5 separate regions of the Homo sapiens genome follow, and all the other regions are linked to region 5. Evidence: fine-mapped expression QTL. A gene starts in region 5. Each other region holds a variant in brackets. All regions are shown on one strand. Distances are from middle to middle. Region 1 has its middle 140 kb from the start of CD164. Region 2 has its middle 52 kb from the start of CD164. Region 3 holds the start of PPIL6 (peptidylprolyl isomerase like 6). Region 4 overlaps FIG4 (FIG4 phosphoinositide 5-phosphatase). Region 5 holds the start of CD164 (CD164 molecule).

What was found.
Region 1: its variant is fine-mapped to the expression of CD164 in whole blood (INTERVAL, PIP above 0.99).
Region 2: its variant is fine-mapped to the expression of CD164 in whole blood (TOPMed, PIP above 0.99).
Region 3: its variant is fine-mapped to the expression of CD164 in whole blood (TOPMed, PIP above 0.99).
Region 4: its variant is fine-mapped to the expression of CD164 in whole blood (INTERVAL, PIP above 0.99).

Annotation. Positions count from the first base shown.
Region 1 is chr6:109,238,668-109,245,280 of GRCh38, forward strand. It overlaps the pseudogene CCDC162P. Among named protein-coding and RNA genes, the nearest start is that of CD164, 140 kb to the right of the region's middle. RefSeq lists an enhancer at 2,921-4,120. The variant T/C (reference allele first, on the strand shown) is at 2,829.
Region 2 is chr6:109,327,661-109,334,273 of GRCh38, forward strand. It overlaps the pseudogene CCDC162P and the pseudogene RPL7P28. Among named protein-coding and RNA genes, the nearest start is that of CD164, 52 kb to the right of the region's middle. RefSeq lists an enhancer at 925-1,452. The variant G/A (reference allele first, on the strand shown) is at 3,665.
Region 3 is chr6:109,437,692-109,444,073 of GRCh38, forward strand. PPIL6 (peptidylprolyl isomerase like 6) reads right to left here and starts at 2,937. Exons shown (of 8, transcript NM_173672.5): 1 at 2,765-2,937. The coding sequence starts at 2,899. It overlaps SMPD2 (sphingomyelin phosphodiesterase 2), which reads left to right and starts at 3,033. Exons shown (of 10, transcript NM_003080.3): 1 at 3,033-3,480; 2 at 3,666-3,762; 3 at 3,861-3,937; 4 at 4,283-4,376; 5 at 4,519-4,608; 6 at 4,852-4,934; 7 at 5,061-5,193; 8 at 5,286-5,390; 9 at 5,576-5,729; 10 at 5,826-6,228. The coding sequence starts at 3,431. The coding sequence ends at 6,214. It overlaps MICAL1 (microtubule associated monooxygenase, calponin and LIM domain containing 1), which reads right to left. Exons shown (of 25, transcript NM_022765.4): 25 at 6,371-6,382. RefSeq lists silencers at 2,528-3,347, 2,989-3,194 and enhancers at 3,608-3,677, 3,838-3,917. The variant C/T (reference allele first, on the strand shown) is at 3,438.
Region 4 is chr6:109,727,624-109,732,623 of GRCh38, forward strand. All of the region lies in intron 4 of FIG4 (FIG4 phosphoinositide 5-phosphatase), which reads left to right. Among named protein-coding and RNA genes, the nearest start is that of FIG4, 39 kb to the left of the region's middle. The variant T/G (reference allele first, on the strand shown) is at 2,315.
Region 5 is chr6:109,379,221-109,385,833 of GRCh38, forward strand. It overlaps CD164 (CD164 molecule), which reads right to left and starts at 3,247. Exons shown (of 6, transcript NM_006016.6): 1 at 2,984-3,247; 2 at 359-442. The coding sequence starts at 3,158. RefSeq lists a silencer at 2,705-2,984 and enhancers at 3,140-3,649, 3,205-3,554, 3,635-3,864.

The sequences.
Region 1 (6,613 bases), 140 kb before region 5:
ATCCAGTATGACTTCATCTTAACTTGATTACATCTGCAAAGACCTATTTTCAAATAAGTTCTCATTCACAGGTTCCAGGTAGACATGAATTTTGGGGGACACTATTCAACTTAGTACATTAGTAAGCCATGAAACTGTGCTAACACATTTTAGAAGTACTTATAGAATTACAAGAAAAATAGTTTTAACCTAACATTTAAGGATTCCAAGTGCCTTACACTCATAGAGTCACATACTCCTGGCAGCTAACATAGTCTATAGTGTCTCCACAGTCCCCATGTTACAGATGAGGAAACGGAGGCTGGGAATAGCTGAATGACCTGCCCAGGATGAGATCCTGGCAGAGCCAGAGCCTGAACCCAGGCATTCTGACTCCAGAGACCACTCTAGGCTCTATTTCCTACCTTTCTCCAGTTGCTACTGAATTTGTCAGAAAAACAAACTAATCAGCTAGTTATCCACCTCAGGAACTACCTCTTCCTGCCAATATTCTTTGTTAATATGTTTTCTGCATACAGCTTTTTATACATTCAGAATATTTACAGCTTCATACTGGCAGCCCACTGTGTGGGAGCAGAAGCCTGCTGCTTGTCCATGTGGGATGGCAAAATATAGCTCTCCTTTTTCCAGTAACATCTGGGCTTGGCTTTCTTTCTCCAGGTCCACAGCGTCCAATTCATGGAGTTCTCGGAAGTGGAGAACCAGGATGACTACTACAGCACAGAAGCTGGCTGCATCCACACCCAGGACCAGCAAGGGGTGCATGTCATGTATGAGGAAGCCTTGAGTGATCTCAAGGAACTAGAGGCAGAGTTGCTGCTTGTGGCTAGCCATTACATTGAGAAAGAAAGGGGTGAGAAGTCAGATTTAAAAAAAAAAAAAAATCAACTGCCTAAATAAACAAAAAACACTAAGGGCTCCTTTTTAATACTCTCCACCCCAAAATATAAACACATATCCAATAGTATGTGAAAACTCAATAAGCGCACACTTCCCCCACCCCTAAAATGCATTCACTTTAGGAGAGACACAGTTCTGTTTCCAGCTCAAGCCCTGCTTCTGATAGAGATGGTGACTACTCTTTCAGGGCCGGGTTGTAATTCTTGCTGTGATTCAGACTCTGTTTGTTGACCAGGGACATTTCTTTTCTTTCTTTTTTTTTTTTGTTGTTGCAGCAGGAAGTTTCCTTTATAAATGGAGAGTTGGATGATACACAGTTCTAGCGTAAGGCCTCAGTCACTGGGCCCCAGGAGACAGAAAGGAGCAGGGCTGAGAGGGACGACATGCTCCAGGGCTCATGTCACACTGATATGTGCGCCAGGAATGACCGCCCATGTACTCCTAAAGTTCAACCCACCCACCAGTTCAGTCAAGAATTATGCTTTTAATTCTTCATGTTTGGCCACTGAAGATCAAATCCACCATGATAACAGGATTTCAGTACAACAGGCTCTTTCCAGTTACGACAGACAAAGATGTCCAGGCTCTTGATAAGAAACAAAAGTTCCTTTGACTTCTCTTGCGAGGACCGAAGAGATAAATGTTTTCTTTGTGATCTGTTGAAATGTTTATATAGACTTGAAAAAACAACTAACAGTCATTCTGTGCTCTGGTTCCCTGGAAGGTTTCTCATGATCTCCCCTTCAATAGCTAGAGGGCTTGTGTGTCAGGGAACAAAGAATTAAGACACTTTAAGCGATAAAAATCCTAGTGCAACACTCAGAGGCAGATCGTGGGCTTGAGGGGGCCGGAGGGGTGCGAGGCAGGTGCTTTGACTGAGGAGCAGGTGCTGCCTTCTGGGAAAGCCTAGTGGAGACAGAAGCAGGAGCAGGAAGCCCTGCCAGGGAAGGCCCAGTTTCTTCCTTGCTCTCCTGAGGTACAAGGGACAGCACGGCCCCTGCATTTTCATTTCTCAGGGCCAAAGACCTGACCTCTGACCCTCTACCCACTCTGGTGACCTGCACGCTAAATTGGGTGGTTTCTGACTAAAACAGGCTTAAGCCAAGAATTGGGATTTTACTCCCAGGGGCATTTCTGCGTCACCCACTGGGTGCAGGGGATGTGGTGCAGGACCCTGAAGGAAGGAAAGTAAGCAAGTGAAACAAATGACTTTTCTAAGTGGTAGACCTTGAGGAAACTGCATTTAGCAGCAGAGACAGCCCTGAGTTCCTAACAGGAAACCACTAGGATGCAAGAACATCTGGCTAGGAAAATGCCAGACAAGCCCCAGAGGAAGAAATCATTACTCAGGGTAATCAAGTAACCCATAACCTGTATTTTCTCTTCCTTTTGGCATCACTCAAATCGATCCAATTTTAGAAATGAATGAGGTAAGAATATTCTTTTGGGATACTATGACAGCATTGGAATTACACTTGCAAAGAGCTTAGAATTTCTAGACACATTGCAATACCTAAAGGGAAACTTAATCAGGGTTTGTGCTATTTTGTAATATGTGTAGACTGTAATTAAAGATAATTCACATTCATATTGTTATAAAATGCTGCTCAAAGAAAGTTTGACAACTAACTTTTCAGATCCTAGACAGAATTAATTTGATATAGGATTGAACTCTTTGTCCTGTCTTTGCCATTGGTATCTGAATCATAGGACGCAATGATGGCATCCAACATTCCAGGGTATTTAATTTCAGCCCTTAGCTTTTATCTTTACTGGTTATCCTACAAACCAATGCACCATTTGGTCCATATTAATTTATAATAGCATGCAACTATTTCTAGCTGCTAAGAATTTAACTGGACTGAGACACTTAGTCAGTAGTCATTTAACCACATGGGCATTTTTCAATTGAGCTGGTAAATGTATAG[T/C]CATCTATTGTGAAATGATTTCCCAACTGTTGCTACGGAAGTTCTTGATCATCTTTCTCTTGCTTAGTACCCATTAGATATGTGATAATTATTGAGCTTAAATTTCAGCACATGAAAGTATCTTATCTTTGAATATTTAATTCTGAAATACAATAGTTAAAAATTTAAAGCAATAATAATACCAGTAGTGAAAAGTAACGTGAACAAAGTTAAAAAAAATCAGCTGAATAATGAAAATTAACTTCATTGATTTAAGTTAGTAATTAACATAATTAAGGAATATCTTGGAAACGTTTCTGAAAATTTTCGACTTGGTTCACAATGATGGAAATAGCAAGTCAAACTAAGTTTGTTGTTAAACCCCCAGGGGTTTGTTTTTAGAGAAGGAGAAATGTATACTTTGCCTTTAAATTGTGGGTTTAAGGACATTTTAGCATAGATTTCTTGTTAACTAAATTTTGACTCTATTTCTAAGATTAGTCTTTGAAACTGAATTTTAAAAATAAAAACAAAAGCTCCTGTCGACTTAGAAGTCAACAAGTATGAAGTCAGGCTTTGTCCCAGGGACTGGTTCAGTATTTCTGTTTCTGAGATGGAGCTGATAATCCAAGGGGCACATTTCTAATTGGAACAGGTTCCTTGGAAGCCCTGTCTCTAAACATTCTCACCCTCTTTTCTCCCAGGTCACAAAGTGGGCAGCCAGCCAAAGAGTGGCCAGGAGTGGGGATGGGCCCATGCAGATGTGGACAGATTTGCTGTGCTGTATGACACGTGGACTTGGGAAGCAGCTCTTCTGGAAAACAAGCGCCAGGTATTCTTGCCTAGGAGACAAAATGTCTGCTAAAAAAACATTCTTACAAAATCCAGTCTTTTTTCTGTTTTTTGTTTGTTTTTGTAAAACCCAGTTAGACTTTTAGAAAAGCTCTCAACCAAGAGAATAATTATTTTATTTAAATAATCTCAGCTAATTATAAGGATGTAATACATTTTATTTTCTTTACTGAGGTTCATCACAAAAAACAAAATGTGAAAGATACTTCTTTATCTTACAGGTATTATTTGTTAGAGGGCTACGTAATTCCTTCTTATAATATGTATGTTTTTAGTGAGAATGAATGATGATTTCATTCATGCTCATTGTGCAGTCACAGGGACAATGCTCACTTTGCTAATTACAGACAAATTGACCTGATCATGGCCTTTAGAAGCGTATGCCACATGTGGGTAGGTGAAAGCAATTGGACAGGGTGCTGAGTGCAATGTTATGAGGGTGAGTTTAAAGCAATGAAACAGCAAGTTACTAAATCATCACTGTATCACGAATGGTTCATATCCCAATAATGAATGAAACACTGCAGGTTTACTGTTCTTCATTTGTGCCCTTAGCATGGATTATGAGCCCTTCTAATAATCACCAATTGTTAGGCATTTACTTACCAAATATGAAGTATTTACTCCGCCAGGGACTGTTCCAGGCATTCAGGGACCTATAGATAACTAAGTGAAAATGATCTTTATCTTTAAGGAATTTATCATCTATAAAAGTTGATTCAATCTCCAAGCAAAAATTATAATCTAGTTACTAACAGCTTATAATTGAATACATTCATGAGTCATGGGGACTCTGCAGAGAGAGAGATTTGTCCTGGGGGAGGGGAGCACTGTCCGATGGAAGAAATGCTAGAAAGCCTTTCCAGAGGAATAGATATTTAATCTTGATACTAAAACATGAGTAAGATATTGTCTGGCAGGGAAGAAAAGATTCTTAAGCAGACGAAATGGCATTAGAATGTCAGGGCAATGTAAATGGGAAGGACCAGCTTGGGGGATTTTATTTTGAGAAATAAAATCTTACCTTCTTGGAGGATGGTAGGAAGACTGTTATGGCTGGGATGTAAAGGCATGATGGATGGCAACAAGCCACACATGTGTTTTGGGTGCAGCCTGTAAAAGACCTACTAGTTATATTATTTTAGAGTTTGTCTTACAAACAAAGAAGAGCCATTAGTGAGTTTCCATAGAGAGAAATATGATCATAGCTGTGTTTTTAACAGCTATCTTGGGTGTAAGTGAGAGAATGGATTGGAATAGAGAGCCCCTGAGAAAAGAAGTGCAGTTGTTGCAACAGTGACCTGAAAAATTAGGAGGGGACATGCAATGACAATAGAAGAATAGAAAGGCAGAGAGGCGGTGAGAATAGGAAGGAGGAACAGACCTGAGAATACTTTGCAGAAGTGGAAATGGCAGGATTTGAAGACTGGATCTGGAAGTTGGGGCGAGAGAGTAAGGGTGGAATTTAAACAACTTCCTGAGGATTAGGGAGGAGGCTATTAACTGAAACTGAACCCAGGAAGAGGAAGAGTGTCTTTAGACAGGAAAATAACGTAGGCCCTAGGACAACAAGGCATTTGAGGGGGTTTGCTGAAACTCAGATGTGAATGTTTTGTGGGGAGCTACAGGTTTGAAGCTCAGGAACAGGTATGAGCTGAGGTATGAATGCAGAGGTTGAACCACAATGATGAATCAAAACAACTGGGAGAAGCTAGAGGTGTCTGAAATGAAGCCCTAAGTAATGTACCTACTTTTTTTTTTCTTTTTGAGATAGTATCTTGCTCTGTCACCTAGACTGGAGTGCAGTGGCACGATCTCAGCTCACTGCAACCTTTGCCTCCCAGGTTCAGGCGATTCTCATGCCTCAGCCTCCTGAGTAGCTGGGATTACAGGTGCCCGCCACCATGCCTGGCTAATGTTTTGTATTTTTAGTAGAGACAGGGTTTCACCATTTTGGCCAGGCTGGTCTCAAACTCCTGACCTCAAGTGATCCACCTGCCCTGGCCTCCCAAAATGCTGGGATTACAGGCATGAGCCACCACACCCGAACCCTGAGTAATATACCTACATTTAAGGGGCAGGTCATGAAACAAGAAGCAGTGAAACTAAATAGACCAGAGAAACAAGGAAGAAATAGTATTGTGGGAACCAACAGAAAAATAAGTTTTAATTAGGAGGGGGTGGTTACTTGTGGAGTTCTGTGAAACGTCAAGAAAGGAACTCCTAAAAACCAAGCAGCTTGGTCAGGTGGTCATTGGCAGCATTGCAGGACTCTTTCAGGGGCATGGTAGGGGTGGAAACCAGGTTATAGTGCACTATGATGTGGTCAGAAGATGGGGAAATGGCAGTGTTTTCTTTGAATTGTTTTTCTAGTAGAATAGATGCTTCACCATTTCATCTACTCTCTGGTTGGTCTGTTACTCCTAGAGATGTAGGTCACCCACCCTTTGGAAAACAATTGGCTGGGCTTAAATAGCGCAAGCCTTGGACTTTGAAAAAATGTTCCTCTTTTCAATGATAACTGGCTTCTACAGCCTTTGTCTGGAGGCTTAATCTGCCCATCAGAACCTTAACCAACTGAGTGAGAGATTTAGATGCACAGTGTAGTAATGGAATGGCTGTATGAAATATAAATAAGACAGGATCCTTAAACTCAACAAGTTTATCAGTCCAGGCGTGAATTTTTTTTTTTTTTTTTTTTTTTGAGACGGAGTCTCACGCTGTCGCCCAAGCTGGAGTTCAGTGGCACAATCTGGGCTCACTGCAAGCTCCGCCTCCCGGGCTCACGCCATTCTCCTGCCTTAGCCTCCCAAGTAGCTGGGACTACAGGCGCCTGCCACCATGCCCGGCTAATTTTTTTTTTATTTTTTTCTTTTCCTCAGTATAATTTTCTTTTTTTTTTATTATTATACTTTAAGTTTTAGGGTACATGTGCATATTGTGCAGGTTAGTTA
Region 2 (6,613 bases), 52 kb before region 5:
TGTTTATCTGGCAATTCCAAAGTGTGAAGTTTCACTTCTAGTCATCTGAGATGCACCTTGTCACGTTTCTGCCGCCAGGAACCATGTAGGAATGATTCCAGTCATTTAAACCTGAGCCCTTTTCCTTTCCTCTGCTCCTTCTTTGCCAAAAGTGCCTGCTTTGCCTGGATGGCTTTGAGAGCTTGATAAGCCTTCCTCTTTTTCAGGAGATTTTCTGGAACCAAAGGGATTTTTCTTCGCTCTTGCTCTGCCATCTTTCTAGTGTTGCAGCTACTGATCACGTGCAACCCCTTTAATTTTTTTTTTTAGAGCAAGGATCTCAACCTGTTTCCCAGGCTGGAGTGCAGCGATGTAATCATGGTTCACTGTAGCCTTGACCTCCTGGGCTCAAGGGATTCTCCCACCTCAGCCTCCCAAGTAGCTAGGACTACAGGCATGCACCATCATGCCTGTCTATTTTAAATGTTTTGTGGAGATGGGGTCTCACTATGTTGCCCAGACTGGTCTGAACTCCTGGCCTCAAGTGAACTTTGTATATGCCTCATCCCATCTGTGTCAGCCATATTGCTGCTTCAATCTTGGAGCTAAAGTTCAGTCTGTCAACATTTCTAATCTGTAACTCTAACTTCTCTCTTTTGAATTTCCTCTCCTTTTTTATCACTATTATATATTCAAGTTAATTTTGCCCTCTAGCACTAGGAACTTAAGCAGATAAATATAATAGCTGTTCATTTATTTCTGATCATTGTTTTAGACCAAAATAATTGGCAGATACATAGAAGGCCTTAATAAAAATAAAGATGATGTAGGATTGATACTAATATTTGATTTGGGGTTTTTAGTTATGGTAATGGAATATTCCCTGGATTTCATAGGTGCTCTTCCAAATCTTTGCATTAGGAGTCAGGTTAGAGATCTTCCTAGTTCCCATGTTCCAGAGGGTCTTGGATCCCCAGTTGCCCAGCCCCCATTAGTTTTTGCATACAGTTGACCTTTGAACAACATGGTTTGAACTGTGCACGTCCACTGATACACAGATTTTTTTTCAACCAGATGAGGATAGAAAATACAGCATTCGGGATGTGAAAACCACGTGTGCAGAGGGCAGATATTTGTATCCACGAGCTCCCCAGGGCTGACTGCAGGATTTGAATATGCATGGATTCAGGATCTGAGGGTGTTCCTGGGAACAATCCCCAGTCCCCTGCATGTATCAAGGGGCAGCTGAGTTTAGAAACAGCTTATTGTGTCCCATGTTCTGTCTCAGAGAGTTGCCATTTTATAGCCATTAATGACAGCACAATGTTTTGTGGTACTAGTGCCAGTATGTTTTTCCCCCTAGATCTCTGGAAACACCAAGTCATGAAAGAAAACTTTTCAGTCTCAAGACCACAAATAGTTGAAAAATTTATACAGAGATTAATGTAGAATTATCAGGATGATGGAGTAGAGGTATGTATTGAAAATTAGTCATTCTGTTGGTTTTTATAACATCATCCCAAACAAGGAAAACTTTCTCATTTAATGGATCTCCTAATGCTTCCCTTATTCCCTAAGAATGATTATATGAATACTGAGGCTAAGCCCAAAGTAGAGCAATTGTTAGTTATTTTTTTCCTTTTTTTTTTTTTTTGAAATGGAGTCTCCCAGACTTGAGTGTAGTGGCACGATCTCGGCTTCACTGCAACCTCCGCCTCCCGGGTTCAAGCGATTCTCCTGCCTCAGCCCCCTGAGTAGCTAGGACCACAGGCATGTGCCACCACACCCAGCTGATTTTTGTGTATTTTTAGTAGAGACGGGGTTTCACCAAGTTGGCCAGACTGGTCTCGAACTCCTGACCCCCAGGTGATCCACCTGCCTTGGCCTACTAAAGTGCTGGGATTACAGGTATGAGCCACCACCATGCTCAGCTGTAATCATTAGTTTTTAATTTTGGAAAAAAATTGATTTCCACTAAAGATCTGAGTAATTAGAATACATACGTTGGCAAATTTCAAATTTGGTCAATTTTTTTAAAGTAACCTTGGAGTTTGTTTATGAATGAGTTGGTTTTTAGCAACATATTCTGTTGTTGATTTGTTAGTATGGAAAGCCTGAATGAGGAAAACCAAAATAGCCTATAATGCTGTTACCTAGAAAACATTAAAATGTAGCATATGAAAAAAAGCCAATAGCACAGAAAGCTAGCATTTTCACCTGTCCCCATGCCACCATCTCCAGCTTCCTCTGCAAAGGAAGCCAGCTTCAGCAATCTGTGTGTGTCCTTCCAGAAAAAATATTCAAATCCGTGACAACTCTATATATTATATTAAATAATAATATACATTTAATACATACACACATGCATATACACAGTCCTTGGAGTTTTGAAACATGTTTATTCTTGGCAGGAAGTGCCTTGCTAAATCAAAGCAACCCACTGAAAAGGCAGGATAAGAGAGTAGACGTAGATATTTGACCATAACAGAGTTTTGTGGAGTGTTAACAAGTGCTTTTAGGTAACTGTGAATCCAGTTTCCTTTGAAACTCAACCATTTAAAGAAATTTGACTTGGCAAAACATACTTCATTTTTTTAAATGTCTTCTCCAAATTTACATTTTTCCAAGTTCTTCAAATGTTCTCCATTATTTTATAATACACATCTCAGTTCTTATGAGGTAGAGAATTCACAAGCTTGGTTGGGGATACATTTTTCCTCAGAACTTGATGACTTACATGTATTAGTTTAAGCTTTCAATCATAAACAAACATGGTACTGGGTACTCTGAGTGGGTGAAGTAGTTTCCCATCCTTGAGATAAGGAAGTGGTTAGGGTGGGGCATATCAGAAAAATGGATGGAAAAATTTTGTGGCTCACCTTATAAAGGAAGGAAATTCTGGCCTGACGTGGTGGCTCATGCCTGTAATCCCAGTACTTTGGGAGGCTGAGATTGGCAGATCACTTGAGGCCAGGAGTTCGAGACTAGCCTAGCCAACATGGTGAAACCCAATCTCTACTAAAAATGCAAAAATTAGCCGGGTGTGGTGGCGCGCGCCTGTAGTCCCAGCTATTTGGGAGGCTGAGGCGGGAAAATCGCTTCAACCTGGGAGGTGGAAGTTGCAGTGAGCCGAGATTGTGCCATGGCACTCCAGCCTGGGCGACAGGGTGAGACTCCATCTCAAAAAAAAAAAAAAAAAGGAAATTCTGATACATGCTACAATGTGGATGAACCTTGCAGACATTATTGCTAAGTGAAATACGCCAGTCACAAAAGCACAAAAACGCTATGACTCCACTTATATGAGGTACCTAGAGTAGCCAAATTCAGAGAGACAGAAAGGATGGTGGTTGCCAGGGGCTGAGAGGAAAGAATAGGTAATTACTGTTTATCGGGTACAGGATTTTTGTTTTACAAAATGAAGAGTTCTGGCAGTGGATGGTGGTGATAGTTGCCCAGCAATGTGAATATACTTAATGCCATTGAACTGTACCTTTGAAAATGGTATAGTGACAAATTTTATGTTTAACACAATAAAAACAACAGTTTAGTGACTGAAGTCCTTCTCATTTCTTATCTGTATGCTTCACCCCAACATTGAGGTCTTGTGGGAAAGAAGCATGAATGTCAGTAGGCAGAGCAAACCCATATCAGGTACACCCCACACTCTGGGCACACTTGAAGA[G/A]GCTGGTGTCAGCCTGCCAGTGTCTTGAAGTCAGGGTCCTCAGGATGCCCCAGCCTCTCCAAAGTCTGTGCCTGGTAGGCTTCTAGCCTTTTCTGGATCATCTGCAGTAACAGGGAACTTACTCTTCCAGCCACCCCCTGTCTCCATCATGGATATGGTGCAATCTTGGCTCACTGCAACCTCTACCTCCTGTGTTCAAGTGATGCTCCTGCTTCAGCCTCCCAAGTAGCTAGGATTACAGGCACATGCCACCACACCTGGCTAATTTTTGTATTTTTAGTAGAGGCAGCGTTTCACCATGTTGCCCAGGCTGGTCTTGAGCTCCTGACCTCCAGTGATCTGCCTGCCTCGGCTTCCCAGAGTGCTGGGATTACAGGTGTGAGCCACTGCCCCCAGCCCACTGATGTGTTTTGTCAGCAGAGGTGGGTGTTTTAGAAACATCCTCAAGATACCTCGTGTGTGCCTGATATTAAACAAATTGTTACAAGGGATTCCAAGATGAAGCAAACCACAGAAACTCAATTGCTGCTGGCAGGCCTCAGGGCTAGACTTTGGCCATAACAAGGCCCAGTGCTTGCCATGCTTCACCCCAGGCTGGTTCTCTTGAAGAATCCCTGGGGTAATCTGCTGCTCTTCCACCCAGTGCCATCCATCATGGTTCAGGTTTGAATGATGGTGACAGAACAGCCCAGTGGAAGGCGGTGCTGCTTATTGGGCAGAACTGGGCCAATAATCTTAGTCTGCAGCTCTTATGCCAGCCAGGGTCTTGGAGAAGAAACTGGCCAATGGTACCCACTCACGCTGCATTTTGACACAAGCACAGGTGACATTTACAGTGACCCAGGGAGGCAGGGGTAGGTTGCAGAGCAAGTTTTAGGAAATAAATTGCTCCGAGAGCCCAGAGAAGGCTGAGCCCACGGAAGCCACACCGGCTGCTTCATGTGCTGCTTCCAGGAGGCCAAGTGCACAGGGTGCAAGACCAAAGCTTACCTGGAGAGAGGGGCTGCTGGGAGCCTGAGAGCCTCCCTGCACCCCTCCCTCACTGGCCACTCACTGCTTCCTGTCTGCCCCTCCTCAGACATGCTCCCTGTCCCATGTCCCCTGCAGGTACTCTGCCTGCACCCTTCTCCCTCTCCCTGCTTCCAGCCTCTCTCCCCTTGAGCTGTGCTTTCAGCTCAACCTCTTGAGGCCTCAGTAGAGCTCTGAGAGAAGGAAGCAATAGAACTTCTATGGCCTCTGGAGATGCTCAAGGAGAGTCCTACCTTTCCCACCTCTTTGGTGTTATACAGACTCACCACAGACTCCTCCTGCTGGCCAGGTAAAACATCATGTTGGCTCAGAGGGCATGGCAGAGGGCCACTGTGGTCCAGTTGTGCGTTTCTGTGGGTTTGGGATCCTATATCTGCAGAGGCTATGGTGGCATTACTATGAGAAGTGTTTGCCCTGCATAAGAGCTGTTGGATGCCCTGTTGGCACACCCATGTCTGGGCACTCATACCCAGGATAGTAAAGACTGAGTTGCTGTGGCTGGCTCAGAGCACTAGGCCCAGAAGAGGTCACTGGCCACACCTTGCTGAACTCCAGTAGGGTCTTGTGACTTCTCATGGCTGCAGGCTTTCATTACAGTCAAACCAGGAAGTGCTTCCTTTGTCATGACCAAACCCGTGTAGCCTTGCCCTTTCACCAGGAGGTCAAGGTCCAGGGGTAGAATCTTGAGTTCTCTTTGCCTTGTGTCAGCAACTAAACCATGGCTGTCCTGGTGCTTGCTCTCCAGAGACTGGGTGGGGCAAGAAGGGTAACGGGCAGGTCATCCTGCCCTCACCCCACCCACTAATGCAGCCCCTTGAGGAGGGCCCTAGAGTGTGAGTGGGAGACACTGAGTTCCTGCCCCTCACTGCCCCATCCACTGCTCATTAAATGCAGCGTGAGCAGAGGTTTCCATCTGCTGCTTTATTGCCCGTATCTTGATCATATCCTGCCAAGCTGATATAGTTGATGACTTTTTAAAAAGCTCAACTATCTTTAGATTACTATATGCATTTTATTTTTACATATATTTACATAATTATTTTAGTTATATACATTTTATGATTATATTGTAGTAGAAAATATACTCATAATCTTAGTGCTCATTGATAACCATTATTATTATTATTATTATTTTTTTTTTTTAAGAGACAGGTCACCCAGGCTGGAGTGCAGTGGCCTGATCATACCTCACTGCAGCTTCAAACTCCTGGGCTCAAGTGCTCCTCCAACCTCAGCCTCCTGAAGCTAGGACTACAGGCACACACCACCATGCCCAGCTAGTTTTTGTATTTCTTTTTTGTAAAGATGGGGTCTCACTTTGTTGGCCAGGCTGATCTCAAACTCCTGGCCTCAAGCAATCCCTCCTTGGCCTCCCAAAGTGCTGGGATTACAGATGTGAGCCACAGCACCTAGCCTCCACTATTATTATTTTGACATATTTTCTTCCAAACTTTATTTATAACACTTTTCTACTCATGCACTTTGATATAGGTTGGCTGTGTCCCCACCCAAACCTCACCTTGAATTGTAACTCCCACAATTCCCACATGTTGTGGGAGGAACCCAGTGGGAGGTGATTGAATCATGGGGGTGGGTATTTACTGCACTGTTCTTACCATAGTGAATGAGGCTCACAAGATTTGATGGTTTTAAAAACAGGAGTTTCCCTGCAAAAGCTCTCTTTCTTTGCTGCCATCTGTGTAAGACGTGACTTGCTCCTCCTTGCCTTTCACCATGATTGTGAGGCCTCCCCAGCCATGTTGAACTATAAGTCCATTAAACCTCTTTCTTTTGTAAATTGCCCATTCTCAGGTATGTCTTTTTCAGCAGTGTGAAAATGGACTAATACACACTTTTTTTTTTTTTACAAAATAAGATTATTCTGCATGACCTTTTTTTATAGCATGCTTTTTTGTTCAC
Region 3 (6,382 bases), 58 kb after region 5:
TTACAGGCACCCGCCACCACGCCCAGCTAATTTTTGCATTTTTAGCAGAGACGAGGTTTCACCATGTTGGCCAGGCTGGTCTTGGCCAGGCTGGTCTTGAACTCCTGACCTTAGGCGATCTGCCTGCCTCAGCCTCCCGAAGTGCTGGGATTACAGGCGTGAGCCACCGCACCTGGCCCGGTTGACTGCTATTTCTAACCATCTGGAATAAACTATAAATCCAGCAGTTTTCAAATGAAACACATGTCTTTTTAGTAATTTAGTATTTGTTGTAGAACGGACTATATCCAAATGAAAATGTATGCAATATTTGTTCCTATTCTCTACAAATTTCAATCTTTTGTGTGTTTGGTTTTTACATTTTGTTTTTTATTTTTCAATTGACATATAATAATTGCACATATTTATGGGGTAGTGATGTCTCAATACATATAATGTATACTTATCATTAGCATATCCATCATCTCAAACATTTATTATTTCTTTGTGTTGGGAACATTCAACACAAATCTAAATCTTTGTCAGTTAATCAGGCATCTGGGATCGCTCACAAATTATCATGTTAGGAATACATTCAGATATCCTTTATTAAGACAGAACTAGAGGCTGGGCATCACCGTGGCCCATGCCTATAATCCCAGCACTTCGGGAGGTCGAGGAGGATTGCTTGAGCCCAGGAGTTCAAGACCAGCCTAGGCAACACAGTGAGACCCCCATCTCTTCCAAAAAAAGAAAAAAAAAACTAGCTGAATTTTCATATTTGAATATAACTACAGTAGGTAAAAGTTTAAGAAAGGGAAAATTGACATTATTAATACAATAAAGATATTGTTTTCTCGACCTACTGTCTTCTACATCAGGGGTTGGAGAGGAATAATTTTTAGATTTGTAAACAGTTTTTTGTTTTTTTTTTTAAGACAGAGTCTCACTCTTGTTGCCCAGGCTGGAGCACAGTGGCACGATCTCAGCTCACCGAAACCTCCACCTCCCGGGTTCAAGCGATTCTCCAGCCTCAGCTTCCCGAGTAGCTGGGATTACAGGCGCCCGCCACCATGCCTGGATAATTTTTGTATTTTTAGTAGAGATGGGGTTTCACCATGTTGGCCAGGCTGGTCTTGAACTCCCGATTTCGTGATCTGCCCGCCTCAGCCTCCCAAAGTGCTGGGATTATAGGCAAGAGCCACCGCGCTCGGCCTGTAAACAATTCTAAAAAATCAAAAGAATTGTATTTCACGTTATGTGAAAATTATACGCAAGTCAAATTTCGTGTCCATAATATGGTTTTACTGGAATACTGTCATTCATTTCCATCTCTGTGTCTGCTTTTGCAACACAGGAAAAAGCTAAACAGGTGTGACTGAGACCCTATTGCCAAGAAGGCCTAACATATTTACTATCTGGACTTTACAGAAAAAAACTTGTCAACACTTTCTTTACAATGTGGAGTCGGCACAGAAAATATGTGCCTTCAGAAAAAGAGCGAAAAAAAAGAGAAAAAAAATCTCTGAAACTCATTAATACATTAACTTTGTAATTAACTTCATGGCCATTAACTTTGGTAATAAAAGGTTGCTGATCCCGTCTGCCCAAGCAACACAGACCACAATTTCTACTTTTGATGATTCATGTATTATTTTCACAGACTTCTGATCACTTGTTTTCTTTTTATTATTTATTTATTTTGAGACGGGGTCTGGCTCTGTCGCCCAGGCTGGAGGGCAATGGCGCGATCTCAGCTCTCTGCAAACTCCGCCTCCCGGGTTCAAGCGATTCTTGTGCCTCAGCCTCCTGAGTAGCTGGGATTACAGAGACCGCCACCACGCCCGGCTAATTTTTTGTATTTTTAGTAGAAACGGGGTTTCACCATGTTGGCCAGGCTGGTCTAGAACTCCGCCTCTGCCTCCCAAAGTGCTGAGATTATAGGCGTGAGTCACCGCGCCAAGATATCTTCTATTTGGGAACATTTTGTTGTCAAGTATCCAGCTGGGTACTTCGGGAGTTAAAAACATTAATTAAGGCATGGTCCTGGAGTCAAGTGAGCTTCGGCGAGAAGTTTGCCATGGACAGCATTTCTGGAGCAAACCCTGTAAGAAGGGCTGAATTCTACATGCCGACATTTCATACATTTCTCCTGCATTTCAGGTTGTAAGTGTGCTGCAGCATGACTGATCTGGCCAAATTCTTCCAGTTTCCTCAAGTGCTTTTCCTTTAGTATCGTTCTGAGTGTTTACAAAGAAATGATTTTCCAAAGCACTTGTGAAGCATCTAGTTCGATTGGAACGCAGTGACGGCTCTATAAAATTCAAAGAAAAGAATCTCCCCGCATGAATAGTTAACAAAAATCGCTTGGGCCGAGGTGGCGGGGTTGTAAAAATTAGCTAGTTATATAGTAATCATTTTTCCATAAATTTAAATATCTCTAATTAAAGAAAAAATTGACGTAGAACAAAATCTGCGGGTGTGTGTGTGTGTGTCTCGGAGGGGATTACCTTATCTCCCAGCGCGGTTCTGAACCCTTCCTTCGCTCAGTTCTCCCTTTAAAAGTCGCCAAGTGGAACGCCCGCCCCCGGACCCGCACTTGCCCCCCTATACTCTCCTCCCGGTCCTCCAGACGGAGCCCGCCCGGCCAGGACACGCCAGCCCCTTCCTCGGCCGGTGGGGCCTCGACCCCCGCCGCCTCGAGGAGGCGCGGCGCCTGCAGTCCACGCGGCCGAGAGCGGGTAGCGGGGAGGGCCGCCCACGACGGAGGTTTCTCTGTGGTTACCTCAGCGGCGCTCTTCGCAATCTGAAAGTTGGGGCAGCTGAAGAGCCCCACCACCTTCACCTGCAGCGGCCGCTCCGGCAGCGACGGCGAGCCGCACCTAGCGTGCGGGGGCCCGCACGGCTGCGGCCTTGCCATGGCCGCGCCCGGGGACGCCCGGTGACCCCAAACACTGCGCGTCGCTCCGGCAACCGCGCGGCCCCGCCTCCGCCGCTCGCAGGAGGCGGGGCCCAGGGGCGGGTCGAGGGCGGCCCGTGGCGGCTGGGCCTTTCCTCAACTTTGCGCCTGTTGCTGGGCCGCCGGCGCGCGGGCGGCCGCGACCGCCGGGGACGAGCTTGGAGGAAAAGGAACCGGGAGCCGCCCACCCGGGGGCGCTCTCCGGACCCCCAGGGTCCTAGCGCGCGGCCCTTACCGAGCCTGGGCGCCCGGATTTCGGCAGCGGATCGCCTTTCCGGGTTGGCGGCCCGCCTGATTGGGAACAGCCGGCCGGTTGCCGGGGGAACGCGGGAGTCGGGCCCGACCTGAGCCACGCGGGCTTGGTGCCCACCTGTGCGCGCCGCCTGCGAAGAAGGAACGGTCTGGGGAGAAGGCGCCGCCGGCCGCCCCCGTCCCCACCGCGGCCGTCGCTGGAGAGTTCGAGCCGCCTAGCGCCCCTGGAGCTCCCCAACCATGAAGC[C/T]CAACTTCTCCCTGCGACTGCGGATCTTCAACCTCAACTGCTGGTGAGTGCGTCTGCGGAGTGCGGTCTGGGGGCCACCTTCCGTTCGCACCCATGCAGCCTTCCTCCCCCTATCCCGCCCCACGATCTCAGGGTGTAGGGAAAACCCGAACCTCCAAAGTCCACATCTGGCCCCAGCGCCGGTGGTCCCAGCAGTCGCCTCCCCTGCCCCGCTCTTCCCTTCCTTAGGGGCATTCCGTACTTGAGCAAGCACCGGGCCGACCGCATGAGGCGCCTGGGAGACTTTCTGAACCAGGAGAGCTTCGACCTGGCTTTGCTGGAGGAGGTGAGATTGTGCAGCACGGTGCGGAACCCAGGCTGGGAGGAGGGACAGACCGTCCCACTGGGGAAAGACCAAGCAGGCATCCTCACCGCTTCCCTCAGGTGTGGAGTGAGCAGGACTTCCAGTACCTGAGACAGAAGCTGTCACCTACCTACCCAGCTGCACACCACTTCCGGAGGTGAGAAGCCCACTGGCCTGAAGCCTGTTGTCATCCCAGGAGGCTCTTGGCCCTGCCAGCCCTTCCCTATCCTGCCTGCACTCTCCAGTCTCCTCCAGCCTCCTCTCCCTCTGGATGTGAGAGAAGGAGAAGGGTGAACCAAGAAGGTCCTATGACTTCAGCCCATTTCAGCTTTGTTTTCTGGCTGCCCTATACTCCTCCAAAGGCTGTCGCCTTGGTTCTAGGGCTAGTCCCAGCAGTAGAAAAAGAAAAAAATAGCTGATCAGAGCTGGAAGACAAGGGAGGGGAAGAAGGCTGGGTGTCTCTCCCTGTTTTTCTGGTTATTAAGCAGGGCTTGGCTTTCAGCGGAATCATTGGCAGTGGCCTCTGTGTCTTCTCCAAACATCCAATCCAGGAGCTTACCCAGCACATCTACACTCTCAATGGCTACCCCTACATGGTAAGGCAGACCTTTGACCTCTTCCACCTCCCTTCCCCACCTCCAGTAATACAAGGTAGAGGAGGCAGCCCTCTGAGAGCTGCAGGGGATGGGCAGAAAGATGGTGGCGGTGCCCTGAGTTTCTATCTCCTCCTGCCTGCAGATCCATCATGGTGACTGGTTCAGTGGGAAGGCTGTGGGGCTGCTGGTGCTCCATCTAAGTGGCATGGTGCTCAACGCCTATGTGACCCATGTGAGTGAAGCTGGCAGTGCCTAGGGCTGGGACATGCAGCCCAGTCCTGGGACAGAGAGATGGTACTTCTCTAGCTCTCATACCTGGGGATGAGGTGTGGGGGCAAGATCTTATAAGGAAGCAATGGGCAAGGCTTATCCATTGTATACCAAACACCATGCCAAGTGACAGACACAGGCTTGATTCAGACATACCCCTGGGACCCTCAGTCTTATCTGCTGTGATCTCATCTATCTTGCTCAGCTCCATGCCGAATACAATCGACAGAAGGACATCTACCTAGCACATCGTGTGGCCCAAGCTTGGGAATTGGCCCAGTTCATCCAGTGTGTGAGCCTGGGCTTGAAATGGGAAGTGGGATGGGACCCAGGGGCTGAGGGTGAACAAGGCCCCAGTCATGGGGAAGAGCTGGTGATGGAAGAACTCCCGCCTCACCAACCTGGTTCCCCCAGCCACACATCCAAGAAGGCAGACGTGGTTCTGTTGTGTGGAGACCTCAACATGCACCCAGAAGACCTGGGCTGCTGCCTGCTGAAGGAGTGGACAGGGCTTCATGATGCCTATCTTGAAACTCGGGACTTCAAGGTGAGGACTTGCCTGTTACTTCCCCACCTATATCCCCAGCTTCTCTCCCTCCTTCTCCCCCACATCCTAGCATGAGCCAATGATTCCCTTAGGGCTCTGAGGAAGGCAACACAATGGTACCCAAGAACTGCTACGTCAGCCAGCAGGAGCTGAAGCCATTTCCCTTTGGTGTCCGCATTGACTACGTGCTTTACAAGGTCAGGCTCCTCCCTTCAACATGCTTTCATATGCTGTGTCTCTTTGTCTACTAACCTGTGTAGATCCTTTGCTCAGCTAGTCTAGTCTTGGACCACTGATGGGTGGAAAGTGGGGTAGCCGGGAGCTGGTTCTCTGGGAAGAGGCCCTCATATATAAGCTTCTCTCTGGCCCTTACTTTTCCTAGGCAGTTTCTGGGTTTTACATCTCCTGTAAGAGTTTTGAAACCACTACAGGCTTTGACCCTCACAGGGGCACCCCCCTCTCTGATCATGAAGCCCTGATGGCTACTCTGTTTGTGAGGCACAGCCCCCCACAGCAGAACCCCAGCTCTACCCACGGTGAGTCACCCCCACCCTTTCCTTGGCCCTTGCCCCGCTTGAAGCAGCCCTTCCACTCTTGACTCTCTCCTGCCCCACTGCCCTGCTCTGTTGTAGGACCAGCAGAGAGGTCGCCGTTGATGTGTGTGCTAAAGGAGGCCTGGACGGAGCTGGGTCTGGGCATGGCTCAGGCTCGCTGGTGGGCCACCTTCGCTAGCTATGTGATTGGCCTGGGGCTGCTTCTCCTGGCACTGCTGTGTGTCCTGGCGGCTGGAGGAGGGGCCGGGGAAGCTGCCATACTGCTCTGGACCCCCAGTGTAGGGCTGGTGCTGTGGGCAGGTGCATTCTACCTCTTCCACGTACAGGAGGTCAATGGCTTATATAGGGCCCAGGCTGAGCTCCAGCATGTGCTAGGAAGGGCAAGGGAGGCCCAGGATCTGGGCCCAGAGCCTCAGCCAGCCCTACTCCTGGGGCAGCAGGAGGGGGACAGAACTAAAGAACAATAAAGCTTGGCCCTTTAGTGGCTCTGCCTTTTTCCTTGTAGAGGCGATGGGAGCCAGGGGTCAGTGTGACTGTCACACTACAGACCTTAAGGCTCCTACACATCTTCTCCTGTCCCCATACACGCCCCCACCTCCCACCTGTAGGCGGTGTGAACGCTGTTTGTGGCAGAA
Region 4 (5,000 bases), 350 kb after region 5:
TTTGTTATTTACAGAGGAATAAGTATTTTTATGATGAAAAAAACAGCAGACATTCTTATCCAAATAATCAAACTTCACATCACCAATAATGAGACGAAACTGACATTGTTTGACTCTCAGTGGGAAGGACACAGTTTACCTTAGTAGTTAAATATTGCTAAAAATATTTAACTTGAATCTAAGCATGGGGAAATAATCAGATAAATACATACCACTGGACTTCCTGCAAGATAACTGGCCTAGATTCTTAAAAGAATGTAAAAGTCATCAAAGACAAAAAACAAAAGACTGTTCCAGATTTTTAAACAGACGTGACAACTAAATGCAGATTTTGGTCGGATTCTGGGTTAAAAGTGCATGTACTTGTACACACATCCTCACACAAAGATCTAAAGGGCTTTATTTGGACAGTTTGTATGTGGACTACATACTAGTGATCTTGAATCAGTATTTAAATTTGGAGTATAATAATGGTTTGCGGTCACTGAGGAGATTGTCCTTGTTTATAACAGATACATGCTAAAATACTTAGGAGTGAAGTGTCATGATGTCTGCTACTTACAGTCAAGTGGTTTAGAAAAATAAAATGTATTTGTATATTTAAAGAGAGATAATATTTGTTTATGTGTTTAAGGAGAGAGCGCTAAAAGTGAATTCAGAAGAAGGGCATAGTGGTGTTAATTGTACTTTTTTTTCCCTGCAATTTTTCCTGTATATCTGAAATGTTCAAAAGTTTTGGAGGAATTATTGGAACCTTGGAAACGTGGGAAAAGCTATTAACAAATTGATAAAATTGTAAAGGTTGAATTGATTTAATATTATGAAGATTAAAATGGAACAAAGAAATATTTATAAGTTTTTAGGATAGGTAACAGTTTAGATTTTAATTATATCCTGTACTTTTGTAGTGTTCCAATACATGAACCAAAATTTAAAGGTGATGCAGCCCTGTTGCTTGAGACCATCTTAGACAGTGGTTTTCTGAGCCCTTGTGATGTTGCTTTTGATGATGATTTGGAAGGGGGTTATTAGAAAATAATTTGTTTCATTTGAGGATAAGTACAGTTTATCAGAGTAGACCTTTGTCTTGCACTAACTGAAAAAGGTTATATCTGATACAGCTGATAGGAAGGCCTATATAGTGTATTGACTAAAAGTGAATCAGATTGACCAGACCATGCGAATCCAGGGATAGGAAAATTTCAAGAAGTTAATGTTGTTTATAAGTCTCATCTTTATGATACTTTAGCCAAGAATACTAATACAAATTATGTTGTTGTGTACAGTGATTTGGATATCTTTAAAGAATAAAATTATGAGTAATAACATGTAAATGGACTTATTCAGAATAAGATACAATTATATTAATAGTTTTTTATAGGTAAACTGAAGTAATATTACTAATTAGGAAAAACTTTTAATACTTATAAAACTATATAATCCAATAGTGTATCTAAGCAAAACTATTTGGTAAAATATTTGGAAATAAAATACAGTACTATTAAACATTTCATACATAATGTTTATCTCTGTAATGCATGATTGTTACCAATGTTAGAAAATTTACTAGAACAGTTCACCACATTAAAATATTGCTGGAAAAATTATCTTCTTAATGTTTGCAGAAAACATATTTGACAAAATTCAATACCCATTTGTGATAAAAGGTTTTAGCAAACTAGGAATATAAGCAGACTTTCTTAATCTGATAAATGATACCTATTAAAAACCTATATCCAAAATTGTTCTTAGAAGTGAAACTTTAAAAGCATTACTTTTAATCAAGGTAAGGAACAATACAGAGGTATCTGCCGTCACTACTAACATTCAGCCTCATACTGAAAGTCCCTAGGCAGTGCCACAAGACTAGAAAAATAAGGCATAAAGCTTGAAAAGAAAAATTACTGTCATTATGCAAACAGCATCATTTCCTACTTGGAAAATTTGAGAATATCTACAAATTCTCGGAACTGATGAAAGAGTTCAGTAAGGTGACTAAGAAAAGATGGCTGGGCATGGTGGCTCATGCCTGTAATCCCAGCATTTTGGGAGGCTGAGGTGGGAGGATTGAGCCCAGGAGGTTGAGGCTGCAATGAGCCATGTTTGTGCCACTGTACTCCAGCCTAGGTGACAGAGTGAGACCCTGCCTCAAAAAAAAAAAAAAAAGATTAAAAGAAGAAAAAAGAAAAGATCAACATGTAAGACATACAGGAACCAGTAATATTTCCACACACTAGCAGTAACGAACTAGAAAATGTATAAGGTACCTGCCAATAAATATAACAAAAGCTATCCAAAACCTTATGGAAAAAAC[T/G]TCAAACATTATTAAAAGATTTTTTAAATCTCTACATAATTGGAGAGATGTCCCTTTTTCATGGATGAGTCTTGATATCTTGAAGATGTTAGTTTTCTCCAAAATTAATTTATAATTTTTTTTTTTCTTGAGACAAGGTCTCACTCTGTTACCCAGGCTGGAGTGCAGTGGTGCAATCTTGGCTCACTGCAGCTTTGAACTCCTGGGCTCAAGTGGTCCTCCCACCTCAGCCTCCCCAGTAGCTGGGACTACAGACACATGCCACCACGCCTGACTAATTTTTGTATTTTCGGCAGAAATAGGGTCTTTCTGTGTTGACCAGGCAGGTTTTGAACTCCTGGGCTCAAACAGTTCTCCCACCTCGGCCTCCCAAAGTCCTGGGATTACAGACATGAGCCACAGGGCCTGGCCAGTTTATAAATTTAATGTAACATTGATCCAGATTCCAAGAGGATGTTTTGAGAATGGAACTTGACATGATTTTAAAAGTCATATGGAAAAGCAAATGTCTAAGCATGGTCCAGACAATTGAAACAAGAAAAACAAGAAGGGATAAAGTCAACAAGATGGTAAGACCTATAATAATTAAGATAATCAGGTAGTAAGCTATAGTAAATAAGACTGCTAAGTATTGGTGGAGGAATTGATGGGGGTCAATGAACAGTGTTGAGAAAGCCTAGAAAAAGATCCATTTTATGTGGCAAACTGGAATATGATAGAGTGAGCATTACAAGTCATTGGGGGAAAAGATGGGATAAATAGTGTTGGTTTTCCAGTTGGACAAAAATGAAATTTGATTCCATTCTCTGATAATATTCAGGAAGCAATTCCAGAAGTACAAAGATAATTTTAAGAAAATAAAGGTAAATATTTTTATAATCCTGGTATGGAAAAGGATTTTACAAACAAAATACAAAATGCATAAACCATAAGGCAAACAATGCTATATTTGATACTGTAAATATTCAAAATGTATTTATAATCTAGACAAATTTTAGGAAACAAGCAGCAGTCTGAAAGTAGATATTTGTAACATATAACAATGATTATTATTTAGAATGTGGGAAGAATTTCTACAAATCAGTGAGAAAAAAATACAACATAACTGAGAAATGATTAAAAGGAACAGGCAGCTCACAGTAGAGATTCTGAACCTTACCTAGTAATTTGGGAAATGCAAATTAAAAAGGTACCATTTTATTCTCATTAGTCAGTTTGGGAATAATCAGAATATCTGCTGTCATCAAATTATAGCAGAGATGTGGGAAATGAGTTGTATACTATGAGTTATACACTATGAGTTGGAGTGATATTTTAACCACTTAGAAGAACACTTTGGCAATTCCAGCATAATTGAAAATGCACGTTATCTATAGTGCACAGTGGTTCTTGTTTCCGTGTATCTGCCCTAGAGAAACTCTTGCACATGTGTATGGGAAAACATGCATGGGATGCTCTTGGCAGCATTGTATCTTATAGTGGAGAACTAGGAAGAACCTAATGGTCTATCAGCAGACAATGGATAAATAAAGTGTGTCATGTGTAGTTGGCTTTCCTTATCCATGGGTTCCACCTCTGTGAATTCAACCAACCACAGATTGAAAATACTTGAAAAAAACTGTGTCTGTACTGAACATGTACAGATGTTTTTCTTGTCATTATTCCCTAAAGAATAGAGTATAACAACTATAGAATTACGTAGCATTTACATTGTATTAGGTATTATAAGTAATCTGGAGGTAATTGAGAGTGTACAGGAAGATGTGTATTGTGCATTATGTGCAAATACTATGCCATTTTATATCAGGAACTTGAGCATCTGCAGATTTTGTTATCTGAGGGAGGACCTGAAACCAATCCCCCACAGATACCGAGGGATGACTGTATATAGTGAAGACCAAACATTGATTACAAAGTGAACAAATTAAATCTATAACTTTCAACGTAACTAGGTTTCAAAAAATGAGTGAAAAAAGTAGGACAGTATACAAAGTTTGTAATGATTTGCATACATATTTTAAATATACAATATAATGCTATGTATTATTTAAAGATGGCTCTAATGTGATAAAAGTAAAGAGATGCATGGACTGGAAGGATTCACATCAGTGACAGGAAAATGGTTGCATTTGGAGTGAGAGAGCCGGACTGGGGAAGTCTAAAGGGAATGTTAACTTTTTAAATTGTTCGTTATTTATCTTAAAAAGGTTGAAATAGATATTTTAAAATGTGAACACTTATTAATCATGAGTGACAGAAATGTGAACATTTTATTCTATACCTTTTTTGGTGTAAAAACTTACCAACTTAAAATTGTGGTGACCCACATTGCGCTTGTTGTTGTTGCTCTCCTCTCTCCATCCTCAAAGCATTTGCAAAGCATGTTGTAAAAGCAAAAACAGCATTTACTTCTGTCTTGCCCAAAGTCTGCTGTGCCCCCTACATGTAGATGCACGACTTTGCCTCTCACTGGCATAATCAGTGGTAAGGAACAGCCAAACTATAAAGTTAAAGGTCTCCAAAGGGATGATCAATAGACCTAGAATTGCTTTGGATGTAATCCCTATTCTAGATATGGTTTGAATTCCTCAGCTTTAATGAGCATATTTACAAATATAAATGTACATATGGGTACATGTTAAACTGTGAGAAATAATAGTATTGGACAAATGAAATGTACTTTGTT
Region 5 (6,613 bases):
AAAAAGCCAGGTGAGGAAGCACGCATCTGTAGTCTTGGCTACTAGGGAGGCCAAGGTTGGAGGATTGCTTGAGCCTAGGATTTCAAGACCAACCTGGGTAACACAGGAGACTCCATCTCATAAAAAACAAACGACTGAGCTTTAATTATCAAGTCTTAAGGAATCTAAAGGGAGGATGGGAGACAAAAAGAGATTTTCAGGGGGAGTGCGAGGCAACTGGCACTTTAAAGGAGTACTGGATTTGCAAAATAAATAGTGCACAATATCCTAAATGTCCTACATAACTTTCAAGTGTTCAAGAATTACTGTATTTTAAAATGCTATAACAAAACAGTTTTGCATCCCCAAAGTTTCTTACCTTTACATTCTATCCAAAAGCAGGTAGTATTAACAACGCTAACATTAAAACAGGAAACGCAGCTGTTTCGACCTTCACAGGTTTCTGGGGAGTTGGGGGGAGAGATGCATGAAATCAATGATTTTATTAGTATCTTATTTGAATCTGTATTACTTATCTTTTTGAACAATAAGCATTACATACAGCATCAAAATTACTAATTCAGATAAATGATAAAACTTTATACTGGTTTACTAAGAAATTCCAATCATTACAAAGCTGTAAGTAAACGCATTAGAAAAACAAGCTAGTGGTCACTCTCAGTACAGTGCCTGATGGTATCTGTCTAACCAATCCTTTTTCACAGGACAACTATTGGAAGACACCCACAGCCACTAAGGATTTAGGCATTTCAAAGCATCCTTAATACATAAAAATATCGAGAAAAAGGCTTTGATATAATACCAACACTACACATAGGAAAACCACTACCCCCAAACATCAGATAAAACCCTGAGATTTTTAGTAGTAACAGTAGTAGTTTAACAGGTTGAACCCAAGCACTGATGATGCCCATTCTGCTGCAAACAAAGATAATTTCCCAGGGATTCTCGATTCATAAATGATCCACTCTCGACAGGATCCTCCACAACTGGAGACAACATCTAAAAGCCCATATTCAAGTGCATACAATTCAGGTTAACAAGGTATTTGTCAATAGTTCATCCTAGGCCAAACAATCCAGAAACAAGTACTCATCACCATAATTCAATTTCTGGAGAAGAACGGACTATAAAATTGGGCTCTATTTTCCAGTGAGAAAAAGCAGCAAAATAAAAGAAAAAAAAGAATTGGGCTCCATTCATTTTCCTAGAAACTAGATGCCTCCAAACATTCTCGTTTGCTTTGCTCCTGCCTAAAAAATAGTTCTGCAGAGGCACTGCTTTCAATACTTCATCATTAGTACTTATTAAAGACTGGGACATGTACGGTGGGGTGGGGAAGGGTTCATAAAGTAAAAATAAATTTTCTGAAGTTTGTATAGATAAAACATGCTGTTTAAAAACCTTTGTGCTTGACGGGTGTAGCAAAGTGAAATGTCTGAAATGTTCTTTACAATGAACTAAACTTGCTACCTTTCAGACCACACTACATCCACTTATGATTTCCAGAAAATACATACCTCCTTTGCACGCACTTCAATTACACAAAGACAAATTAATTTGATACTTCCAACCTTCTCTTACACACACACTACAATTCTGAAAGGAAACTGTCAAATTAAGACTGAGACAAACATATTCTGCTCTATCATCTTAAAATAGTGCGGTTAGAATTCCCAGTATTATACTGCAATTTACTTCCCTCGTTTTGAAATGTTACCATTACATCTTCCTTAAACTAAAAACAAAACATTAAGTTTACTATATACTTTATTAAACTTTTATAAAATACTAAAACTAGAGGAGAATTTGTAGAATATGAATGCCGTGATAAAAATCATTACACTTCGGCATTCTTCGGTCAAGAAGCCAATGTTAACTACGTAAACATTACTCCTTAACTAATGTTAACTAGAATAACCAATCATACGAGACTGCAGGTTTTAAACCTCTAGTGTTTCTCCCGCTTATTACCTCAAACTTATCTTCCTTCTCTCTTTTGTGTTGTCACGGTATATGGCAATTTCTGCTTTAAAATGTATGTATGCCTTAACCAGCCCTATGCGACTGCACATAACAAAAGACACGCTCCTGATCGGGTTTTAGAAAACCCACAGACCTGGGCACAAACCCCCGTTCCACGACCTACTAAACATACGCTATCTGAGCACAGGACATAGTTAAGAAAATTTTAAAAACAATTGAAAAAAGAATAAACATACAATGTCAGGAGAGTTTACTCATCTCCGTCTCTGCATCTACCTCCTAGGTTTCACTACCTACCTTCCAGTTTAGCCTTAGGATACGTACGCAAAACACCCGGTACATACATGGGTACTTTTCTTCCTTTTCGCATACTTTGAAGTGTGAAGTTTTCACTAACTACGTGCTCAAACGTCAGCTACATTCTATTCCTATCTGCAAAACCAATGTAATTAAATCTCAAGCGACCTTCTCAGACTCAAGTCTGAGACACGAACGAGCATTACCGTCTTTAAGTTTCTCTTTCCCGGACTTCCGGAGAAGGCTACCTCCGGAGAGAGGCGCCGGGAGGGTGAACAACCAGTGGCAGGGAGAGGCAGCTCGGCCCCACCGCCAACCTCAGAGGCGCGACGCCCGGCCCCATCCTCAACCCCACCGCTGCCCCCGCGGAAGGAAGCCACGTCCCCATTTCCGACCCCAAGTGAGGCTAGGAATTACGATGCACTTTTAAAAGGCACCTCGACTTGCAACACTTCGAGGGGGGCCCCAGCCCCGCAGCCACTGGGAACCGCGCGTCCGCTTCCCCCCAGCGCGCTCCCCACCCGGCCCGGCCACGAGTGGACTCCAGGCTGGCCGCCATGTTGCCGGAGTCGCCGCCGCACCCCGAGCGCGGCCCGCCCGCCCGACCGTGGCCCGAACCCGGGCCCCGCCCGCACGGCGAGGAGGCAGTGCGGCTCGGCTGGGCAGGGGAGGGCGGGAAGCCCACAGGGCCCGCGCCCACCTGGTGCCGGAGTGGTGACCAGCGGGAGGGACGTCACCGGCGCCGAGGTTACGTTGGAGATGGGCGCTAAAGTCGTCACGTTCGGGTGCTGGGTCGTGTTCTTGTCCGCGGACAGCACGCAGAGCACGCCCAGGCAGGTGGCGGCCCAAAGCAGTGAGCGGGAGAGCCGCGACATCGTGTCCTCAGCGCTGGCGTTCGGGAGAAAGCTAAGGCTCGCAACGCTCAGTCAACCCCTCAATCCCCTGCGGCGCCGCCTCCGAGACTACGCTCCCCCGCGGGAGCGCGCAGGGGTCACGTGAGAGGCCCCTGTTTTCGGCGTGCGGGGGCGAAGAGGAGGGAGGTGGGGCTCGGACGATACCAACGGGAATCCTACGGGGGGAAGCAGGGGAGTCGGGAGGAAGCCGAAGGAACCTGGCCCTCAAAGCGACTGTGCCACAGCCAAGAAAACTGGGAGCTTCTGCAAATCGTTCTTCTTGCCCTCAGATTACCAGACACGACGCAGCTGGACTTGTCTCATGCCTGCGATAGGGACGGCCCCCACCCTGACTTGCATGGAACAGTCGACATAATGTGGCCTACTGCTTCCACCTGAGCGCCCCGCCAGGCTGTAATTCCGCGGGCCCACGTGACCTCCGGGGCCGCGCCTTCCGGACGCAACTCCACTGGGGCGGAAGTTGGTTTTGTGCGGCTCTCAAGAACTAAGTTTGTGCTGTGCTGCGGGATCCCCAGGGAGCTTCCTTATATCTTCGGCAGGACCCCTTCTTTTTTTCTTGAAGATTGATTTTGCTAGAAGTTATCCTGTGATGGGACTCCCTAGGGGAATGGAGGCACCACGTGGTTAAGGAGTTTGTGCGTTGCCGCCCACATAGTGTGGGCAGCTGAGGCGCCGCCCGGATCAGAGCCGCAGGGCGTCTACTCTGTCACTTTCCCAACCTGACTTTTCCGGATTGCTATTTCAGACGGCGGTTGCAGCAGCCGACCTGTCTCAACTCCACCACTGTAGTCAGAGAATCAAAAGCGGTCTGAGTTGCGAGGTCATTGGGGAGGCCCCCACCCCCACATTACCAGTGAGGAAACTGAGACTTAAAAAAGTGACCTGACCTGGACACGGGATTGCCTGACATCAGAGCTGGATTCTTAAGTTCCTGTTAGTGTTAAGGCGCTGCTCAGACTTTTAGTAAAGGTGAGCGCCATCTACTGCCAAGTCTCACAAAATATTCGCAAAATTTGATACGGTTATCACATGGTAAAAATTAGACTTTAAAAGTTGTATTTAATGCTGTGTTTTCAGCTGTTGTACACTTATGTAATTTTAATTATGCAAAGTTATCCTAATAATATAGGAATATTAATTGCTTTCGTGAGGTCTGTCTTGATGTGCCACGATGACTTTTTTGATGTGCCAAAAAAGATGACTACATAGTGCTTTTACCTTTTTGCTCAAATAGAAAGATTTTATTTCCCCTTGGGATCTTTTCAGTGTCGTCCTTCTGTACCCTCAGGACTATGAACATTTGTTCCAATGACTACGCTAGTTGGAGTAGTGTTGCTTGGATGTAAACAAAAAGCTGATAGTTTTGACTGATCCAGCCCAGAAGCATGAGAATGCTGTCAGGGAAGTGAGCTCCCACCATAAGCCCTTCAGAGAAGTGTCTGCTCTTCTCTCAGGAGGCCTCTCTCTATATTTAACACTTGACTATCTGGCACCCAGACCAAATGAAAGCGCAAGGCAACTTTAATTTTTTTTTAAGGTTAAGAATGTAAATAGGGGCCGGACGCGGTGGCTCACGCCTGTAATGCCAGCACTTTGGGAGGCCAAGGCGGGTGGATCACCTGAGGTCCGGAGTTTGAGACCAGCTTGGCCAACATGGTGTAAACCCCGTCTCTCCTAAAAATACAAAAATTAGCCGGGCATGGTGGCACGTGCCTGTAATCCCAGCTACTAGCAGGGCTGAGGCAGGAGGATCGCTTGTATCCGGGAGGCGGAGGTTGCAGTGAGCCGAGATCACACCACTGCACTCCAGCTTGGGGAACAGAGCCAGACTCGTCTCAAAAAAAAAAAAAAAAAAAAAAATGTAAATAGAAGCTCTGTTCTCAGAGCTTGGTGTGTTATCTTCTTTCCACCCTAGGATAAACACACTCCTCTGTGCAGACCATTGTTTAACAATTTGTCACCTGGATGTTTAACTCTAGTCCTCAGATATTCCTCAGTCCTGATAAAGGGACATTTCACGCTCTTGTTTTAAGACTAGAAAACCATTGGTTTATTTTATTTTGCATGGCAACTGTAGAGGTAGATCAAGGGAGTTCCAAAGTCATTTTCACCATTTCAGAGAGACAGCTTTTTTTTTTTCAGTTCCTGACAGTAAGCTTCTGTTTATTGTTGTCATAGAGCAGGGTTTCTCAATCTTGGCGCTATCAAGATTTCAGGCTGACTCATTCTTGCTTGTCCTGTGCATTGTTGGATATTCGGCAGTATTCGTAGCCTCTACACACTAGATACCAGAAGCACCCCACCTCTCAGTTGTGACAACCAAAAATATCTCCCGATATTGTTAAATGTCTCCTGGGGGTAAAATCACAATTGAAAGGCACCCTCAGAGCGTTCTTCTGTGTGCAAGGTCAGCCATCACTCAGGTTATTTCCTCTTAGACACATTGCTTGCAATTAGATTGTCGATTGGTTGTTAGAGCGACCTTCTTAACCATTTATTTTCTTGAAAGCAGCAAGACAGAGTGCTTCTGCGCTTGTGAATCTTCTAGCAGTATAAGCTCCCTCTAAGTTTTTTAAACAGCAGATTTTTAAACAATGCTTCAGCCTTGTGTCAGTACCTTTCCCCAAATAAACAGATCAACACTCCAAACAGGACCCTGCCTTCTAGCTATAACTAACATCCAGTGGCCCCTTAATAATCAGAGGTTTGCCTCCACTACTTGATAGCAAGAAGTACAAACCCCCTTGTACTAGCTTATGTTAAAGGGAATCCATTCACTGTAAGAATATGACAGTAAATCTTATAGGCATTCAGGGGTGGGAAATCAAGTGTGTGAGGGCCAAGGGAGACTTGAACTTAAAAGGAGGAATCCCTAGCACGTGGAGCTGGTTTGCTAGGACTTCGTTTCAGGCTTCAACCCTACAGGACATTGCCAGATCTATAGACCCACAGCCAATCATCTCCATTGCCCAGTATTCCAGTTATATAGCTCTTGGAAGAGATAACTTGACTGAGTACCATGCCTTCCCAACCTGTCTGTTACCTACTCTCTGCTCTGACTCCATCCATGCAGTCTACACTAGAGCTCCCTGAACTTCCAGTTCTCCTAACTGGTCATGTTTTCTTTTGCATGTGGATCTTCATCCATGCTATTTCTTCTGCCTAGAACATTCTTATTCCCTTCTGGCATCTGACCAACTCCTACTTGTTTGAGGTCTCTCAGCTAAGCTGTCACTCCCATCTTAAGCTATCCTTAAAATATTCAACTACCCCTTTCTCCCCACTCCCAGACTACAAAAGGTGTTCCTGCTCTGTGCACCCTGGACTTGCCCATAACAAAGCATATACTGCATTATATAGCAGTTGTCTTTCTCACTAGATTAACTCAGAAATAGTGCTCACCAGTTTATTCCCTG